Homo sapiens: one gene and its partners. The protein of the gene in region 2 purifies or fractionates together with the protein of the main gene of each other region. This does not show direct contact. Each region holds a gene or a part of one and is shown on either strand. Other genes may lie near its edges.

Evidence for each region. The genes of interacting proteins can lie anywhere in the genome.
Region 1: the proteins of IZUMO1 (region 2) and LPGAT1 purify together in Homo sapiens (affinity purification with mass spectrometry; 2 studies listed by BioGRID and IntAct, with this or other methods). This does not show direct contact.
Region 3: the proteins of IZUMO1 (region 2) and ADCY3 purify together in Homo sapiens (affinity purification with mass spectrometry; 2 studies listed by BioGRID and IntAct, with this or other methods). This does not show direct contact.
Region 4: the proteins of IZUMO1 (region 2) and ASPHD2 purify together in Homo sapiens (affinity purification with mass spectrometry; one large-scale study listed by BioGRID and IntAct). This does not show direct contact.

What each region holds. Positions count from the first base shown.
Region 1 is NC_000001.11:211,827,178-211,832,731, forward strand, and holds the start of LPGAT1 (acyl-CoA:lysophosphatidylglycerol acyltransferase 1), read right to left. Parts: upstream 3,587-5,554; 5' UTR 3,396-3,586; intron 3,162-3,395; exon of another isoform or gene 3,078-3,161; coding exon of another isoform or gene 2,868-3,077; exon of another isoform or gene 2,616-2,867; coding exon of another isoform or gene 2,589-2,615; exon of another isoform or gene 2,273-2,588; intron 2,147-2,272; coding exon of another isoform or gene 2,120-2,146; coding exon 1,882-2,119; intron 1-1,881. UniProt on the Homo sapiens protein: Lysophospholipid acyltransferase involved in fatty acyl chain remodeling of glycerophospholipids in the endoplasmic reticulum membrane.
Region 2 is NC_000019.10:48,743,295-48,748,856, forward strand, and holds the start of IZUMO1 (izumo sperm-egg fusion protein 1 isoform 1 precursor), read right to left. Parts: upstream 3,616-5,562; 5' UTR 3,141-3,615; intron 2,639-3,140; 5' UTR 2,566-2,638; coding exon 2,331-2,565; intron 1,995-2,330; coding exon 1,920-1,994; intron 1,246-1,919; coding exon 1,159-1,245; intron 902-1,158; coding exon 881-901; intron 232-880; coding exon 151-231; exon of another isoform or gene 114-150; intron 1-113. UniProt on the Homo sapiens protein: Essential sperm cell-surface protein required for fertilization by acting as a ligand for IZUMO1R/JUNO receptor on egg.
Region 3 is NC_000002.12:24,909,452-24,914,507, forward strand, and holds part of ADCY3 (adenylate cyclase type 3), read right to left. Parts: intron 1-5,056.
Region 4 is NC_000022.11:26,438,490-26,443,173, forward strand, and holds part of ASPHD2 (aspartate beta-hydroxylase domain-containing protein 2), read left to right. Parts: intron 1-3,969; coding exon 3,970-4,083; intron 4,084-4,607; coding exon 4,608-4,684. UniProt on the Homo sapiens protein: May function as 2-oxoglutarate-dependent dioxygenase.

The DNA of each region.
Region 1 (5,554 bases), on a different chromosome or scaffold from region 2:
GAGACAAACTGATCAAATTGTCAAAATTCAGTAGCCTGAAGAAGAGCAGATGCTTCAGAGAGACTAAAATATGCAGATCATGCCAAGACCACATTCCAAGCAGGTGGCAAAAGAAATTACACAGTTCTATAGTCAGCAAGGAAGAGATACCCCAAGAAAATATGCTGAAAAATACATTGCAGCTATGCTATGGCCATAGGACAACTAACTTTGACTTCAAGCAGCACCACTGCACTCCCAATCTCAAGGTCAATGCCAAATTAATTTTACCTTCCCACCATGCTAACAATTAAATACACTATACACACGCACAAACATTTCAGTAATTTCATTTTAAGCAGAATGAACTTCTAGAACGGGTTTCTGAAAATACTATAAGCTAATTTAAAACAAGCAAACTTAAGTATACTATACAAGAATAAAGCCACTAGTACCATATAACATATATTTGGGAACACTCAAACTATACCAAGCCAAGCAACTCTAAGACAGCAGTGCAATTCAGGTAAGAATTCAGCACCATAGATTAGAACTTCGTTTTTTCTCTACCACTGCTATTGCTACCACCAAGTCCTAAAAAAGGGCTAGAAGCACACCTACTATATCCAAAAAGCATTGGAATCTCAACAAGACAGATGACAAGGAAGCAACGCATACACTATCCCAGGGGCTTCAGCTCTTGCATTATTATGCCACTGCCTGAAGGAGAAATAAATAAATAAATGCCACTGCCTGAAGGAGAAAAGGCTTCATCTGGGGCAACTGAGAATACTCAGACATAGCAAGGGTCTGTCAGACTCCATAAAAGCTGTATACTATCAGTCCTTCTCTTGCGTGTGTGGATAAAATGTGCAGGTGCAGCCTAGGCAGGAAAGAGGGAGACAGAATTTCAGATGGAGAACTGCCATACTGCTTGACCCTGGGAGTACCCCTCCTCACTCTGCCAAGCTATGAACTACAGCCTCTACTGACCACAGCATCTGCATGATCTTCAAGGAGCCTGCCTATCAGGTAGGAATTTCTGTGCTAAAAGCCTCCACATCTGACAAGTGCTAAAAACCTCTATGATTTTTTCATTATCTTAATTCTTAAGGGAAAAAAATCAAATAAATACAATAAACGATACAGAATTTTCACAGCAAGGGCATAAGTTCTCAAAGCATATAAGGTTTATCTCAGAAAATAAACACTTCTCATTTAGTTCTATAAAAGTCCACTTCTGAATAGTGTTACTCTTGCTTCCCCAAATGCAATTTAAAGGCAGAAATCACAATCTATTTAAAGACACTCAGAAGATAAATTAGCTTAACAAAGTTAACTTAATTTTTTATATTTAATACTCTCAGATTTATGAGATAAAATATAGATTCTAATAAACAAAAGAAACATACGTAAGAGAAAAGAAAGCCATTTTTGCTTGCTCAAAAGGCTAACAGTACAATATCACGTTAAATGATGAAGAAACTTATTAAACTATCTTAGCACAAATATGGTCCCATTCTTTTTCTAAATTTCCAATGTTTATGGGCATCTTCCATGAAATAGATGAAATATCTTACATCTTCACTTTATAAGCTCTCGAGTCCTATACAACGCACTCCTATTCCTCTACCAGAGCTTTTGCAGACCAGTTTTAATAAATGTATGTCAATCACAATAAAAACACTAAGAAATTTACCAATACATAATTATGAAATTATACTTCTGAAAACATTGGTCTTCCTGAGATTCTGAAGAGAAACCCAATAGAACTGTTTTCTTTTTATTTTTTTCAATAGTGAAGACATGAAAGCATCCTCAACCCAAAGTGTAATATACATTTAATCATGGTTCCTGACAAATTTTTTCTTATGCATTAAAGAAAAGTGTTCTCACTCTTACCTGTATATCCAGCATACCATCCCCAGGAAGCTACCATTCCTAAAAGCCATTTATACATGATTCCTTCGATATACCAGAACCGCTTACTGTCCAGCACTCGAAGGGGCTGAAGTATAATTACATAGCAGATGTAGGATGGAATAGCAACCAGGTTGTTGACGACCATGAAGGCAAACCTCATCAGTGCTTTCACCAAGAGCCAGCCCAGCCACGGAGCTTCTTCCAAAGTTATAGCCATTCTCACACTGGACTCCGTCCTGTCTTTCTGGGGTGAAAGAAAAATTCACTTAAAAAGGAAAATTCATTAAATACATCTAAACAGTCACCAACATAGAAATCGCCCCCAGCACAAAATAAAACAGCGAGGGTCGAAGCTTTCCGGGTGTAGTACCTCGGTGATCTCTCAGGGGAAATTCCAGAGGGGGACAGAGAGCGAGGGAGGAGGAGCCGCACAAGGTCAAGGGAGCTGTTCACCGAGGCACGAAGTATGTCACAATATATTTAGCAAATGATAACACAATTCCCATTCAGTAATCGGTGGCCGTCCCCGCACCGTGTCTCACTGCGGTCGTCTATTGGACTTAGAAAAATAGATCCACTCGCTTCAGACAACCTCAGGATCTCCAAACTGAAGACACAAGTGACATGACCGAAACAGGGTCCCCTCAATAAGATTTCCCAGATACTGAGGACCTCAGTCTCCTCACCACCACGATTCCTGCACACCGATGCATTCCTTTAAAAGGTCTCTGGCTCTAGCGAAGAGTTACCCTCAAAATTCTCATTTGTAGCAATAGGGTTTTTGTTTCCCTTTTTTTTTTAAGAAAAAAAATGGGGGGCCTAGAAAAAAAGCTTACAAGGTGAGAGGAAGAAAGTAGGGGGTTATAATGCGAAAAAGAGGAAGGACAGGAGTAGGGGGAAGGGAGCAAAAGCCAGAAAGAGGTAAAAGCCAAGGAACTGGGGATGAAGAGAATGAGATTTCCGACCAGAGGGCAAGGAAGCAGGGGATGATGAAAGGGGCAGAGAAGAGGCGACCGCAGCGCGGGGAGCCGGTGGAGCCTGCAGCGGTTTCCGCGGATGTGGAAGGGTCGTGGCGGCGGGCGCGGCCCGCGCGCCGGGCTCACCTCGGCGGGCGCGGACGGCGGGCGGCTGCGGAGAGCGGGGGCGGGTGTCCCCCGCCGAGGGGTCGCGGTCATGGACGCGGTGGCGGCCCAAGCGGCCCGAGGCGCTGCGCGAGCGGGCGCGCTGGCGCCCTACTCCCCTCGCGGCTGCCTGCGGACAGAGGGACGGCGGGGACTCAGAGGCCGGACCTGTCACCCGGGCGGGTCCCGGGGAGGCGGGCGGATGCCCCGCGCCCCCGCCTCCTCCCCGGGGCCTACCGCGCCCTCGTCCCTCAGGCCGCTGCCGCCTCCCCGGGCCACGCGACGACGACACCCCCTTCCCCGCCCCCAGCGCCTCCCCTGGCCCGGCTCCGCTGCCGCTCTGGGGCCTGCGACCGCGGAGCCGGAGGTTACCTCGGGCTGGCCGGGCCCCAGCCGGGGCTTTGGGAGTCAGAGGAGCCGGAAGAATGCATGGCCGGCGGCGGGGCCGGCGGAAGAAGGCGGTGGCGGGGCCCTGCCCCGCTCCGGCTGTGGCGCGGCCCGCGCCCGTTCCCCGGCGGCGCCGAGACTCGGTCCCCAAGGGCCCGGCCGCGTTCGCCCGGACTGGCGGGGAGGGGCGGCGGGAGGAAGCGGCGGGAGTCGGGACTGCGGCGGAGCCGCTCCCACAGCGCCCTCTAATGAAAGCGCCGCCGCCGCTGCCTGGCCCGCTTGCCCCGCCTGGCCCGCTCCCCCTACCCCTGCGCCAGCGAGTCGGGGCCCTCGGGGCTACCTGGACGCTCGGCCAGGACCTCAGTGAGTCCAGAACATACTGAGGGAAAGGGCCGCTCGGAAAGATCTAGGAATGAACACCCATCCTCACACCCCAGGAGTGCCTTGGTTTCAGTTGAGAGCCCCCTTTCAGCCAACACGGCCGCCTTTCATTGTTAGGGCTCTCTTCTCTGCCCAAACTAGGAACCTGTCTCCTTGACGGCTAAATGTCCACTTTTCATTCTTAATGAAACCCGGTTGCACTCATGGCTTTTCTTCTTAACCTCTGCAGTGTATTATTGTCTAGAGTTTCAAATTCATTCTTTTTACGGTCAAAAGTCTTGTTTCAGGAAAGCAGCTGGAACATTAATGGCAATTCCACTTTCCCATTCATCGCCCCCGCCCCCACCACCCCACCAAGAAACTCAGTGGGAATGAATGGTCTACACAGAGAAACTGAAATCTGGTTAGTCAAGAAGGAAAAAACAACCAAGTGCCTGGCATTAAGTAAGTACTCACCCGCCCGCCCTCCCCCGCCCGCCATAAAAAGAAAAACCGAAAAGACAAAAAACAGTGGCCATGGGAACTCCTAGACAGACCCCGTCACTTGGGATACTATAGCTGCATTCTGGTTCAAAGGCTGGACCACCTGAAGGAAAATAGAGAAATAGTCCATTGACCTACCCCCTTGAGCATTCTTAAATGATCTGCCTAAATTTTAGTTTTTAAAAATCCTGTTTATAAAACCTTATGTCCCTTAAGCACATTTGTAAATGGAGGGGATGGGGCAGGGCAGATTTCACACTCCCTAGGGAACTGCCATATTTGAATCAGAATGCCACCTATTCTGCCTATTTTGAAAATGTTCATCACAGCGTTTGCTCTGGACTCTCAACTTTCTCTAATTTCAGTTCCTCTTAGGTCCACAGGTGAAGGAAAGATATGCCCCATTCTATTCCTTGCATTCTCTCTTTATTGACAAGGTAGTAAGATCTTTAAATAAATCTCATGAGAGAGATAATATATATACTTTATTATTCAAAATATGTCATTATATTCTTCAGTAAGATAGGTGAGGTACATATTTATTTCCACAATCAAGAATAAACTCTAAGGATTCCATCTGGTCCATGCAATTCAGCTTTCCCACATGCTGCGTAAACGTTGGCTGACACCTGGAGAGAGATAACCTACAATGGGATTTACACGTGATTCCTGGATCAGGGACCATCTGCCAGAGGACCAGACACAGCAGCACTTGATGAAATGCAATTAGTACCAGGCCCAGAATTCATTTTCAGGCTCAGAAAAGAGCCAGAGGTTGGGCAGGACCTCTGGCTCTTTAGTGTACAAAAACAACACTTGAAGTGTCTACCAAAGAGACAGATTCTTCAGCATCATACCAGAACATTTTAATAATCTAGGTCCAGTGGACCTGAGAACCTGCTTTTTAAAAAGCGTCATAGGTGATTCTGATGCAAGTAGTATGCAGACCTTGCTTTAAGAAACCCTGACTTAGAGGTATTCTGAGATGATCACATTCTCTTCTAGACCCTTCATAATTTTAAATCATTTGATCATATGTGTTCTCATGTGTGTTAGTCAGCTAGAGCTGCCATAACAAAATACTGCAAACTGGGTGGCTTAAACAACAGAAACTTATTTTCTCGAAGTTCTGAAGGCCAAGATCAGAGATCAAAGTGTGGGGAGGTCTGGTTTCTTCTGAGGCCTGTCCCCTCGGCTTGCTGATCACCATCTCTCATTGCAGAATTCTGCCATTTCAGTACCTCCTTATGGAAGGAGTAGGGAATACCTAATCTCCTTGA
Region 2 (5,562 bases):
GACTATAGGTGTGAACCACTGCACCTGGCCTAAACCCTACCTTTTCTTGTCTACTGCCCCCACACCCCCATCTAGGCTCTCTCTAGACTGCCTCTCCTCTCGCCCCACCCCACCTGCACCAATTCCTCCTGCTGGGTCCAGTTCTCTCACCCCCGCAATCGTAGGACTTTCGACAAGCGTGAACCTCCTTTTTGCAGTTCTTGCACCAGATCAGAGTTTGCAACATCACACCTGGAGGGGCAGGGTCAAGGCTTGTATTTGCCCACTAAGGGGCATGGCTAAAAGGAGAGGTCAGGGCTAAGGGCTGGGGCCAGATCATCTATGACATTCCTAGATGGTCAGACGAAGGCACAGGACCAGGACGCAGGTAAGTAGTAAGTGGGCTCCAACAAGGCTCAGTAAAGATTGTAAGTAGAGGCCGGATGCGGTGGCTTACTCCTGTAATCCCAGCACTTTGGGAGGCCGAGGCGGGCGGATCACAAGGTCAGGAGTTCAAGACTAGCCTGACCAACATGGTGAAACCCCGTCTCTGCTAAAAATACAAAAATTAGCTGGGTGTGATGGCGGGCACCTGTAATCCCAGCTACTCAGGGGGCTGAGGCAGGAGAATAGTTTGAACCTGGGAGGTGGAGGTTGCAGTGAGCCGTGATCGTGCCACTGCACTCCAGCCTGGGTGACAGGGTGAGACTGTCTCAAAAAAAAGAGTGTAAGTAGAATATGACCTGCTCCCCAAGAAATCCATGGTGCAGAAAGAATACTGGAGACCCAGGAACCTCTCCAAGGCAGAGAATGACAAAACCACCAGGATCCAAAAAGGCGAGTGGGGAGGTTGACTATTCAGAGGGCAGGATGAGGGTTAACTTCTGTAATCCAGACTCACCACATTTGTTGGGACAATAAGCTGTGTCAAAAGAGAAAAAAAGAGAGCAAGAAAGAGATGACAGAGTCAGATTTCTAAATGAAAGACGATGGAAGAGGGGGTTGGGGGAAGAGCTGGGCTTTGGGCTTTTGGGTTCGAGGGAGAAAAGACTTGGGTCTGAAGGAGGAGGCAGTTGGGGAAGCTGAGGAACTGGGCTTGGAGAAGTAAGGGGCTGGAGACAAGGACTCTTGGATAGTGGAAAGAGGAGCTGGGGGACACCGACTCCCATCTTCTCTCACCCTCTTTTTGGAATCGAGCAACATAGGTGGCAAAGGTTTCCTTTTGCAAGTGCAACATCCAAAATAGCTCCTTCACGAAGAGATCGCCTGGGAAGACACAGGAACCCCCAATCCCACGTGTGAGGTGTTGGAAGTTTACTTCTGCCTGCAGAGTCTGGCAGTCTACTTCCTGGCCTTCTCAGGAAAGGGCGCTACAACTGACCGTCTAACATAATGCCAGCTGCTGGGCTAGGCAATGCATATTTTGGGGGATGGGGGAGGGTCTTACCCTGCCACCCAGGCTGGAGTGTGTGGTGTAATCGTGGCTCACTGAAGCCTCAAACTCCTGGACTCAAGCAATCCCCCCGCCTCAACCCCCCAAGTAGCTAGGACTACAGGCACACACCACCATGCCCAGCTAATATGTATACATATGTCTATTTTTTGTAGAGACAAGGTTTCACCATGTTGGCCAGGCTGGTCTTGAACTACTGAGCTCAAGTAATCTGCCTGCCTCAGCCTTCCAAAGTGCCAGGATTACAGGCCTGAGCTACCGTGCCCGGCCAGCAATACACATTTAAACTGAACAACTGAGGAAGCATTTTAGAGCCAAGGGAGCTTCAAAGTCCTTTGCTCAAGGCCGTACAGCTAGGAAGTGGCAGAGCAGGCATTGGAATCTAGGCGGTCTGGGTCCACAGCCTAGTATCTGACCAAGAGACCAGGCATCACTAACGCTGGCTTCTCTGAGAGATTCGGGACTCCCACCCCCTTGATGCATTTACCTTTTACATCACTGTCTGTGATGCGTTTCAGATCCTTCAGCAAACTCCAGGACCCCTTTTGCAGTGTGGCCTCATCTGTCAGAGGAGATATAACCCCAGATTCCAGCCTTACTGTCTCATTGGCGCGCCTAATCTTAGAAACTACAATACCCATGAGGCCACTGGGCAAAGATAGGCCTGGTTAAGGACTCAGCCGCCCGTTGCCTTCTGGGAGTTGTAGTTTTATTACATAAAATTGCCAGCCGAGGATAGGGAAAACGGTATTTACTAGCCTCGGGGAACCTCGGAATCTGCATCTCAGCCTTCTCCATTCCCGAATCCCGGAGACCCTGCTGTCAGCCTCTTCCTTCCCCTGGTCTTATCTCCCTCCTTTCCCAGGACCCAGGGGTCCGTGGTCCCCCCTGCCCTCACCAACGACCCCCATATAGGCATCCTCATTAAGCGACAGTTCCTGGAAATCCTTCACGGCATTCTCTACCCTTTCCATCATGGCTTTGTGATGCTTCGCATCCAGGTGGCCAGGCAGGTAATCTTTCTCCAGGGACTTTAGCGCCAGCACGACAGACGGGTCACATATAACACACCCCTCGGCAGGAAGCAAGCAACCGGCCAGCGCCGCACACAGGAGGGTAAAATGCGGCCCCATTGCAGCCGGCGCGCACAGTTCCCGAAGACCGTTAGGAAGGGTGCTCTCACCCCAAACCGAGAGCAGGAGAACGCTAAACGGAGAAAAGCCAAAATCCATCTTAAGAAATCCCACTGGGCCGCCTATCCATGGGGTCCGCAAACCTCGAAAAGAGGATCTTCAGGAAATCTCCAAATAAAGAGGACCTATGTCCTTCATCAAATGCCTCCGAAGTGTGAAACTGAGCCCCAATCCAGGGGACCCAAAATTTAGGGTTCTCACTGAATCCCCCAACTGAGAGATCAGAAAAACTATTAAACAGGAATCACTCATAAGTCCCCAAACTCAGAACCTGGAATCTCCCAACCCCATGCGCCCCTTCCCAAAATCCCAAACTGTGGAATTTTCCAAGTCCCCAGATTGACGTGAGCCTGAACTCCAACCCTTAAGAGCAACACCGAGGCACTCCCCCGCCAGCCCCCCAAAACCTGTTGAACCTCAAGCTGAAGATTCAATGCCCAAACCAATAAACATCTAACACAGACCCAACCACGATATTATCAAACTCGGAACTCCTTCAAAACCAAAACACATACCAGATTCCTAGAACTGAGGACCCCACTAACACTTAAGCGAGACTCCATGCGGTCCTCTAGACCTAGGGGGCCCTTGTTCACCCTTCCCCAAAACTAACGGGCTCCCAATTTGCAGGGCGCACCCTTCCGCTTAGAAAAAGGAGCCCCGATGCATCCTGAACAGTGATGCACCCTAAACAGCCGCTCCCCGACCTTGGTTCCCGATTTGTGGCCTCTAACACTAGGGTTCATTGAGGAGCCCGGTCCAGGTTCTGAGGGCTTTTAAAGAGGAAGCCGGGGTCATGACCACCTACGCTAATTTTCCCAGGGGTAAAATCAAGGATTGTGTTGGGGACGAGGGTAAGGTTGGTTGCGTGAAATCGAGAGCTTTTCGACGGGGTCTGAGTCACGGACGATCCCCTCTCCACAAGGAACTCCTGAAACCACCCCCTCCGAGCTTCTCACGTAGGGGCCCGAATTCCTTTATAGATATTCCTTGGGGTTTTCCTCGGCCCCACCCAGAAACTCAACTCTGTCTGATTGGACTGCAACAAAGGGAGGTCCCGCCCATCGCTCCATGACGTCACAGAGGCTGCAGCCTTTTTGGACTAGAATTTTCCCAGCATCTAGGGAAGAGGAAGCCTCCTGACTACTCTGGCTTCCAGAGTCAAGGACCGGACTCAGGCCTTCAGTTTCCTCCCCTCCCCTTGCCCCAGGACCCAGGCTTTGGGCTAGATCCGGCCCCCCAGGCCGCTGCCGCCCCCACCGCGGTCCTTGGAAACGGCTGTCGAGCCACGAAGTGGACATTTTAGCCCTAAGACTACAACTCCCAAAATGCCCTGGGGCCTCTTTCTCTGTAGCTGACTGACGCTGCCAACCTCATAGCTTTCCGGGAAATGTAGTTCAGTGATAATCCGCTCCCTCCTCCGCCTCTTCTGCCCACGCGGAGGTCCCAGTGGGAGGAGAGGACTGGGGGCCAATACTGACAGTCCAGGAGTGAGCAACTGGGGGCTCAGACGTTAGGGTCCTGGAAGGTCTCTCTCTCCTGTGTGATAGAAACAGGGAACCAGAAAAACAGGGACCACAACTCACACAAGTCCAGCAACAAGGGGCTGTCAGATCTAAGTAGGGACAGTACTCCCAATCACGAGTAATAAAAATCCTCAGGGCCCGGCGCGGTGGCTCACGCTTGTAATTCCAGCGCTTTGGGAGGCCGAGGCGGGCAGATTGTCTGAGGTCAGGAGTTCGAGGCCAGCCTGGCTAACATGGTGAAACCCCGTCTCTACTAAAAATACAAAAATTAGCTGGGCATGGTGGCGAACGTCTGTAGTCCCAGCTACTTGGGAGGCTGAGGCACCAGAATCCGAGAGGTGGGAGTTTGCAGTGGGCCGAGATCACACTACTGCACTCCAGCCTGGGCCACAGAGCAAGACTCGATCTCTGAAAAAAAATAAATTAATTAAAAAAAAATAAAAGTCTTCAGAAGTACCCCACCTTTTCCTCCACTCTCTTACACACACACACACACACACACACACACAAACCCACACACACATACACAGTGGCTCTGGCTCCAAAAAAGCTACAGAGACACGGGTTAGTGCTGTAGACTTTTAATTCATACCTCCTGCTCTCTCACCCGTGGCAGCTGAGTTGGGAACAGTACTGTAACAATTGTAACTGTAACTCCCTGATAAGCCTACAGGCATGGGGTCTGGATGAGTAGACAGGGGATGTGATCAGAGCTGACTATGTTTAAGGTTTCTTCTTTCACCCTCCAAAAAACAGCAAGGGGCTCCTGAGATCTCGACAACCCCGTCCACCTTGGCCAGACCTCGTGCTCCTGCCTGGATCTGAGGCTGGGTCCAGGGTCTGCCTACCTTTAGATCGTTTTATCTCAGACCTGCCCAAAGCCAGATGTAGTGGTTCTGGGAGTTCAGGGACAGACAGTGGTTAGCAATGAGCACGGTACCTGCCAGTTTGTCACAAGCACAGAGGGTGTGTTTATACCTGCACACTTCCAGAAAACAGATCCCAGACCCTCAGCAGCCCACCTGCAGACAAAGACCAACTTCCTTCATTGTGAGAGGCAACCTGAACTCACACCCAATATATGGAGCTCTTGGCAGTTTATGAGCTTTAAAAAAAAGTGTCCCTGGATCCCTGGAAAGTTCTGCTCCAGAAGCTGTACCATTTTGGCAGTGATCCCTCACCCCACGTTCACATTTTAGCCTGTCTGCTCAAAACAAACAAAAAAAAGTCTTTGAGGGGCTGTGGGGCTTGTTGGACAGAGTCCCGCTCTGCTCACCAACTACCCCAGCTTTTCCAGAGACTGTGAACAGAGCAAGACGCTGGCCAACTAGAGATGGTTTGTTTTCCATCTCAATTTTTCCAGCAATGGTGGAACATTCATTAGATGCTACAATTAGGTTGCACATTCATT
Region 3 (5,056 bases), on a different chromosome or scaffold from region 2:
CAGTGTCCTGGACACAGGGGCCGTTGCATGCTTGAGAAGGTAAGAGAATGACTTCTCACCCAAATAAGGCAAGGCAAAGTCTATACAGATGAATTCTGAGCCACCATTTCTCTCTGTACAATGCAGTTTCTGAAACTTTCTAAAAATCTTAGAAATGATGTATTGGATCCTACAGAGAATCAATACCTTAATGGAGTTAAAAACACTGGGCTCTGGGCCACATTTCTAACTTTTGAAGCATTCTGTGGTCACAGAGTATTTTGGACCCTACCCAATCTCATGGCTTTAATTAGTTCCGTCTCCCCAGCATCCCCCATGTGCCTCCTGGTTTCTCAGACAGCCTCAGAAGACAGCTGCTATCAATTCATTCCCTCCCTTACACACGCTACTCAAACATCAAAAGATAGAATCAATTTCCTCTTGCATCTGAGTTAGCCTGGACTTCTTGTAGCCGATAGTGATGAGCCTAACCTTTAAAAACTGTGATAGCTTCCACCTTCTCTCTGAGACCACCATGCTGTGAGGAAGCCCAAGTTAGCCACATGGAGAGGTCAGGAGGAGGAGCTCTGAGGCTCCAGACATGAGTAAAGGCTTCTTAGAACTTGCCAGCATAGCTGGCAACTGAATGCTGCAGGTGAATGAAACAGCGCAGGTGGACAAATGAGTGACCCCAGCCCATGCCACGTGAAGCACAAAAACCACCCAGCTGAACAGTCAACCCACAGGATCATGAGAAACAATAAACTGTCATTCTTTTTTTATTCTTTTTTGAGACCGGTCTTGCTCTGTCACCCAGGCTGGAGTGCAGTGTCACGATCATGGCTCATTGCAGCATCCGGGGCTCATAATCCTCCCACCTCAGCCTTCTGAGTAGCTGGGACTACTGGCACATGCTACCATGCCTGGCTGATTTTTGTACCATTTGTAGAGACAAGAGTTTTGCCATGTTGCCCAGGTTTAAACTGTTACTCTTTTAAGCCTCCAAATTTTGGGGCTGTTTGTTACACAGCAGTGGATAACTAAAACACATGGTGAATAAATGGACATATACTCAGTAACACTGAGTAATGAGCCATCCCACATTACTGAATTTCCAAATATAATCCTTATTTGTTCAAACTTGTGTTATCCATTCCCGAGGAAAATGTTTTTAGATACTACACTACACTTTATGCTAAATGCAATTTAATATTTCCTTTCTTTTCTTTTCTTTTTTTTTTTTTTTTGTGAGACAGAGTCTCCCTCTGTCACCAGGCACAATCTCAGCTCACTGCACTCTCTGCCTCCCAAGTTCAAGCAATTCTCCTGCCTCAGCCTCCCCAGTAGCTGGGACTACAGGCGTGCATCACCACGCCCGGCTGATTTTTTGTATTTTAATAGAGATAGGGTTTCACCATGTTGGCCAGGATGGTCTCGATCTCCTGACCTCGTGATCCACCCACCTCGGCCTTCCAAAGTGCCGGGATTACAGGTGTGAGCCACCGCGCCTGGCCTTAATATTTTCTTGATGAGTTGGTCACCATTATGCACATCAGTTACTATGCTGTCCTATAATGTAACAACGCCTCCTACAGCCAGAGAAGGTGCATATGAGGGCTGTTGGTTGCAACACTCAACACCCCAGACATCTCTGTTCCTTGAAGATGCCCCCAAAAACACCTCCTCATCCCCCAAATTGCTCCTTCTAATGCTTGTGGGTTGAGAAACCAAAACCCTAACCCCGTTGGAACTATCTCAACAGGCTCCGAGGGAAGATATAAGGGTTCTTTTTTTTTTTTTTTTTTTTTTTGAGATGGGGTCTCACTGTTCCCCAGGCTGCAGTGGGGTGGTATGATCAGAGCTCACTGTAACTTCAAACTCCTGGGCTCAAGCCATCCCCCTCCCCAGCCTCCTGTACAAGACACACACCATCAGCCTGGGCGCTGTGGTTCATGCCTGTAATCCCAGCACTTTGGTAGGCCGAGGCAGGTGGATCACCTGAGGTCAGGAGTTCGAGACCAGCCTGGTTACTGTGGTGAAAACCTGTCTCTACTAAAAATACAAAAAAAATTAGCCAGGCATGGTGGTGGGTGCCTGAAATCCCAGCTACTTGGGAGGCTGAGGCAGGAGAATTGCTTGAACCTGGGAAGCGGAGGCTGCAGTGAGCCAAGATAGCATCATTGCACTCCAGCCTGGGAGACAGACTCAAAAAAAAAAAAAAAAAAAAACACACACACACACACCACCAAGCCCAGCTGAATTTTTTTTGGTGGTTGTGTACGTGTGTGTGTGTGTGTGTATGAAGATGGGGTCTCATTATGTTGCCCAGGCTGGTCTTGAACTCCTGGCCTCAAGTGATATTCCTGCCTCAGCCTCCCAAAGTGCTGGGATTCCAGGCATGAGCTACTGGTCACCGCCTAATGGGTTCTTTTATGACTCCAGTGAGAAGGAACTCCAAAATCCTACTGACCTGGGCTCCAATCCTGCTCTGCCTCTTACTAGGCATGTGGCCCTGGACAAGTCATTTCAGTTGTCACCCATTTCAGTTTCCTGATCTGTAAAATGGAAATAATATTTGCCTCTTGCCAGAAGGCACTAAACTGTAACAGAGCAAGAGCTCAGTAAACACAGCCACCTCCTCACTGTCCCTGCTCATGGGCCTCGACCTACGCACAATGTGTCTCTGAGTCTCCGTGTTGGTGATAGCACATACCCGTGGAATCTATTATCAAGAACGTGTAATTTGGTGATGGCTGGGCATGGTGGCTCACACCTGTAATCCAGCACTTTAGGAGGCCGAGGTGGGTGAACCGCCTGAGCTCAGGAGTTCAGGCCCAGCCTGGGCAACATGGTGAAACTCTGTCTCTATTTGAAAAAAAAAAAAAGGAAGAAGAAAAAGAAAAAAAGAAAAAACAAAAAGAATGTGTAATTTGGTGGGGGGGCAGCCAGGGGCAGAGGGTGGTGTTGGAATATTTACCCAGCATTAGACCACCCTCGTGGGATTTGCTGTTTGTTTATGAAGAAACTGCAGAATGCCAATAACCCTGGCATCCCAGCCATTCCATCTGACGGAGGGTTTACCCAGAAGGCTGGGCAGACCAAGCCCAGGAGTGAGCACGCATGTGTGTGTGTGTGTGCATGTGTGTGTGTGTGTGCATGTGTGTGTGTGTGTGCATGTGTGTGTGTGTGTGTGTGCCTGCATGTGCATATAAAACTACCCAGTTACCCACCCCTGGCCCAGCCCTGGGCTTCCGTTTCCTCTCTAGAAAAACTCGCTGACTATAAAGCGCTGATTTAAAATAATAAACACGAGGAGTCCAGTGTTCACAGCAAAATGTCAGGGAAATAATGTGGATGAAAGGTGGGGCCTAAATTGCATATGCATGATGATGACAAACTGGGAAAGCTCTGTTTATACACAGATCGGGGTCAGAAAAGGCCACAGAAAGCTGCGACAGGGAAAGGATGGAGGGGTTGATTTTCTGCAAAGTTGTTTACATGTTCAATGACTGATTATTCCTCCTCACATGCAGCTGAATCTGATGGCCCTGCAGTCCCCTTCTACGCACGTCATCATTGTTCTGGTCCCTGGACCCTCCACTGATGCCCATCTGCATACTCTCCACGGAGGGATGACGGCTTCTTTCCCGTCCCGGGTCAGTGGAGGAGCCCAGGGCCAAAGAGCCAGGACTGGCTTGAGTTTGCCTCCTCTTGCTCTGTGTCCTGCACACCTCTCCCTGCAGCCTGCTTCCTGAAGGCTGAAAGCCCCCAGGCCTGCTGCTTCCTGCCCACCGCACCTCACACCAGCTCCTGTCCCGATTCAGCCCCCTGCCTTTCTCAAGTACTCCTGGCCACGTGCCCACAGGGAACATCGTCATGGGCTTCTCCCTTCTTTGCATCCAATTCCCATGGGGAGAAGGGGGTGCCTCCTGTTATACCTTAGGGACTGCCATCTCTTGGCACTGTTCAGCTACGTTGCTTAGCAAAGACATTTGGGGGCAGCCAGAAAAGTAGGAGGCCCAGATGCCTGGGTTCCAGAGAAAGAGAGGCTTTCAGGGAAGTCCCCCAACCCACCTTTCTCACTCATCAGTGACCCCTCCCCTGTAATCCAGCCCCACTACCTCCTCTCAACCTCACTGAGCCTCAGTCCCCTTATCTGTGAAATGGAGCCAGTAACATCCAGGATTAAATGGGATGAGGTGCATGCAACAGCTACCTGCCGTCTGCAGACAGGGTGTCTCTGGAAGCCTCAGTTTCCTCTCACCCTCCCTACGGCAGCTCCCTCCAGCCCCTAGGAGCAAATGTTCCTTTGCTGGGTGAATGATTGCTGTGTAATTTGCAGGTGTGAAAGAAACTGCACATCCACAGCTTCCTCATGTTTTACTTGGTGAAAAAAGGTCTTAACAGGCTCTTCATTCCATGAGAGAATTTTGCTCCCAAATAGCCTTTCTGCTCTGAAGTAAGGGTACAAAATATTTGTCAGCAGTTCCTAGTCCCTACTTTGCCAAATGCTAAAGGCACGCCCCGCCCACCACCACCCCCAACCATCCTGGCTGCCTTCCCCATTGTCCGCACTCATTGGCCGCTGGTCCTGCAGGTCCTGGTCCTGAGCCCAGTCCCCTCCTTCCTCCTCACCCAGCCCAGGGGCAGTTTAGGGCAGTAAAGGGCAAGTAATTCCGTAACAGGTCCTGGGGCAGGACCCAGGCCAGGGGAGCGAAATGGGCAAACACTGCCAGCCTCGGCTCCTCCTGATCCATCTGTCCTCCCTTCCGGCTGCTCTGGGCCTGTGTTGCCTCTTGGGATGGGGGACCCATGGAGCAGCAATCAGTGCTCCATGGAACACAGACAAATGAGCCCTGGGCTGGGAGTCAACGCCTGGGCTCCCGTCCTGTTTCTGCCACCAAAGTGATGGGTGACAGTGAACCAGTTATCACCCATCTCTGTTTCGTCCTCTGTTCCCTCCTCTGGACAGCGGCTCACACCTGTAATCCCAGCACTTTGGGAGGCTAAGGCAGGCGGATTATCTGAGGTCAGGAGTTCGAGGCCAGCCTGGCCAACATGGTGAAATCCTGTCTCT
Region 4 (4,684 bases), on a different chromosome or scaffold from region 2:
GATACACACATACATATATATACATACATATATATACATACATATATACACATACATATATACACATACATATATACACATACATATATATACATACATATATATACACACATATATACATATATATATACACACATATATATACATATATATATACACATACATATATATATATACACATACATACATACACACACACACACACATATATATATAAAGGGGAGTTTATTAAGTATTAACCCACATGATCACAAGGTCCCACAATAGGCTGTCTGCAAACTGAGGAGCAAGGAAAGCCAGTCAGTTTCCAAAGCTGAAGAACCTGGAGTCCGATGTTTGAGGGCAGGAAGCTTCGAGCACTGGAGAAAGATACAGGCTGGGAGGCTAGGCCAGTCTCACTTTTTTATGTTTTTCTGCCTGCTTTATATTTGCTGGAAGCTGATTAGATTGTGCCTGCCAGATTAAGGGTGGATCTGCCTTCCCCAGCCCACTGACTCAGATGTTAATCTCTTTTGGCAACACCCACATAGACACACCCAGGATTAATACTTTGTATCCCTCAATCTAATCAAGTTGAAACTCAGTATTAACTATCAGACATGTTAACTACAAGAAAATCAGCAATCAGGCCAGGCACAGTGGCTCAAGCCTGTAATCCCAGCACTTTGGGAGGCCGAGTCAGGTGGATCTCTTGAGGCTAGAAGTTCGAGACCAGCCTGGCCAACATGGTGAAGCCCCATCTCTACTAAAAATACAAAAATTAGCTGGGCACGGTAGTGCACACTTGTAATCCCAGCTACTCGGGAGGCTGAGGCAGGAGAATTGCTTGAACCCAAGAGGCAGAGGCTGCAGTGAGCTGAGATCATGGCACTGCACTCCAGCCTGGGCGACAGAGCACGATTCTGTCTCAAAAAAAATAATAATAAATAAAGAAAAATCGAAAACTCCACAATCACTTTAATTCCTCTGTTAATAGTATAACAACTAGCATTTATATCATCATGTCCAGTTTTATAACAGCCTGTTCTTTGGAGTCAGGCTGACTCAGCAACACTAAATGGTAACTTTTTAGCAGGTCATTTAACTTCTTAGTTACCCCATCTGGAAAGTGGGTGAAGTGATACCTGTTAAGTGTGTATTTAGCACAAAGCTGAGTAGGAAGACACAGTAGGTCTTCAGTTATTGGTAACAAGGATAGAAGTCCCATAGCAGCCCTGGAAGGTTCAGTATGCTAATGTCCCCTCTTTACAGGTGAGGGTATGGCTCAGAGAGGCTGAGTGACTTGCCCAAAGTCACACAGCACATAAGAGTCACAACCAGTCGTCTGTCCCCAAGTCCTCCGTCCTTCTGTCTCCTCCATGTGGCCTCTTTATTTGAATTATTACTGTGAACGTACTTCCTGGAACCATTATTTCTGGTTCAAAGAATACATTAAAATACTCTGGCTGCTGGAAGGAAAGCTATTTCATTTTTATGCTAAAGGACATTAAATCAGAGGGGAATGCCAACTGGCCCAGGGTCATTGTGGTCACAGTGAGTCACTGAAGACAGATGAGACCACCACCCATCCCAGCTCCTCTTCCAGGACTCTGCTTCCCCCTGGGTGGGCCTTCCTGAGAGCTGTTGGGCTGACCCAACCCCTTCTGAAATCATTAGATGGCCACGGTGGCCCCTTCTTTTCTGGACATCAAGGTAGTGATGGGGGCCAAGTGTTTCTGCAGACCCTTGTGTTGGAAAGGGCGACTGAGGGTCACACATGGCAGTGTTCCAACCGGACCCCACTGGCCGGTTGAAGCATACGGCTTATTTTTTATTTTTTATTTTTATTTTTGAGACAGAGTCTCACTCTGTTGCCCAGGCTGGAGTGCAGTGGTGCGATTCGCCCAGGCTGGAGTGCGGTGATGCAATCTCGGCTCACTGCAACCTTCGCCTCCTGGGTTCAAGCAATTCTCATGCCTCAGCCTCCCGAGTAGCTGGGATTACAGGCGTCTGCCACCATGCCTGGCTCATTTTGGATAATTAGTAGAGAGAGGGTTTCACCATGTTTGAGACCAGGCTGGTCTCGAACTCTTGGCCTCACGCGATCTGCCCACCCCTCAGCCTCCCAAAGTGCTGGGATTACAGGTGTGAGCCACTGTGCCCAGCCAAGCATACGGCTTCTTACAAAGCTGCCAGTCTATTTCCTCTTGAACCTAAGCCATTACCTTAGAAGTGTCCTCCAGTTTCCCAGAATGAGGGCAGACGAAGAGCACGCCATTCTCCAGCCTCAAAACGGATTAAAAGGCTAGAACCCAAGGAGGAGAACACTGTGTGAGCCTTTGATTTTTTAATCGCAACTGAGATAGTCCTAGAGGGGAGACTACAGTAAACACAGTTACTGGGTAAGGCAAGGTTCTAAACCCAACCTCCCTGGATTTCTGGGGGTCCCCTGGTTAGGCTTCAGAGTGTAGTGCAAATGTCAGTCTGTGACTTTCATAAAAGGAATCCATGACCCAGAATAGATGAAGCCAATGAAGGAATGAATTTTTGCCAAGAGTGCAGTGAAGATCTAGATGGTGGCTTATAAACAACAAAAATGTAGAACTCACAGTTCTGAGGCTGGAAGCCCAAGATCAAGGTGCCAGCAGATTTGGCGTCTGGTGAAGGCCTGCTTCTTGTTCATAAATGACACCTTCTCACTGTGACTTCACATGGTGAAAGGAGGTGGCCAGGAGCAGTGGCTCTTGCCTGTAATCCCAACACTTTGGGAGGCCAAGGTGGGAGGATAGCTTGAGGCCAGGAGTTCGAGACCAGCCCGGTCAACATAGCAAGACCCCATCTTTACAAAAAAAAGTTTAAATTAGCTGGGCATGATGGTGCACACCTATAGTCTCAGCTACTCAAGAGGGTGAGGCTGGAGCATCTCTAGAGCCTAGGAGGTGAAGGCTGCAGTGAACTATGGTGGAGCCACTGCATTTCAGCCTGGGCAACAGAACAAGACCTTGTATCTAAAAAAAAAAAAAAAAAAAAAAGATGTCAGGCCAGGTGCTGTGGCTCATGCCTGTAATCCCAGCACTTTGGGAGGCTGAGGCAAGCAAATCTCTTGAGGTCAGGAGTTCGAGATCAGCTTGGCCAACATGGTGGAACCCCATTTCTATTAAAAATACAAAAATTCGGCCAGGTGCAGTGGCTCACGCCTGTAATCCCAGCACTTTGGGAGGCTGAGGCGGGTGGACACGAGGTCAGGAGTTCAAGACCCGCCTGGCCAAGATGGTGAAACCCCATCTCTACTAAAAATACAAAAATTAGCCTGGCACAGTGGCAGGTGCCTGTAATCCCAGCTACTCGGGAGGCTGAGGCAGGAGAATCGCTTGAACCCAGGTGGCAGAGGTTCCAGTGAGCCAGGATCGCGCCACTGCACTCCAGCCTGGGCGACAGAGTGAGACTCTGTCTCAAACAAAACAAACAAAAAAATTAGCCGGGTGAGGTGGTGGGTGCCTGTAAGCTACTCCAGTGCCTCCCAGCTACTCCGGAGGCTGAGGTAGGAGTATCATTTGAACCTGGGAGGTGGAGGTTGCGGTGAGCCGAGATCACACCACTGCATTCCAGCCTGGGCAACAGAGAGAGACTCCATTTCAAAAAAAAAAAAAAAAAAAGGGAAAAGAAAAAAAGATGCAAAAGGAGGTAAAGAAGCTCCCTTGGGCCTGTTTTATAAGGATGCTGCTCCCATTAGGACCCCACCTTCATGATCTGATCACTTTCCAAAGGCCCCACCTCCTAACACCATCACCTTGGGGTCAGGTTTCAACATGGGAATTTGCAGGGACACAAGCCCACAAGCCTTCAGACCATAGCACGGGCTCCAGAGGTGTGAGGCAGGTCAGGTGCTTTAGAAGTCAAAAACTCTCAGTAAGGCAAATCACCCCCTATCTCCTGGCCTTCCCTGAATCTTGCCTGCCTTCACTCTCCTTTCTCTGGTTTTCCTACAAGGTCTGAAAACTCCAAATGGCTGTGAGCTGGTGGTGGGGGGAGAGCCCCAGTGCTGGGCAGAAGGGCGCTGCCTTCTCTTTGATGACTCTTTCCTGCATGCTGCGTTCCATGAAGGTGAGTGGCTGCCTTTCCCACTTCCTTTTTTTCAATGAATAGACTTTTATTTTTTTAGAGAAGTTTTAGGTTTCCAGAAAAATCAGGCAGAAAGTACCAAGGAGGCCCCTTCATATCACCCCATAACACATATACACACACAGTATTGATGCGTTATTATTACCTAAAGTTCATGGTTGACATTAAGGTTCACTCTTGGTGTTGTCCATCCATTCTGTGGGTTTCGCCAAATGGATAATGACACGGACCTACCATGACAGTATCATACAGAATAGTTTCACTGCCGTAAAAATTCCCACTTAAAGATCCCTCCATCTCCCCATTTCCTTTTGTCCACCCTGCTCAGAAGCCCATGAAGCCAGGTTTATGCTCTCAGTGAGAGAGGAGGTGGTCCGATCCGAGCCGAGGGACAGGATGGGGTCCCTGCCCCGAAGCTGAGCACGTAGGGTCCAGCCCTGCCTGGATCCTGGGTCCTGACTCCAGGGTGGTTTGAACCTGTCCTCTCACCCCTCCTTCCCCCCCAGGTTCAGCAGAGGATGGCCCACGGGTGGTTTTCATGGTGGATTTGTGGCATCCAAACGTCGCAGCGGCCGAACGGCAG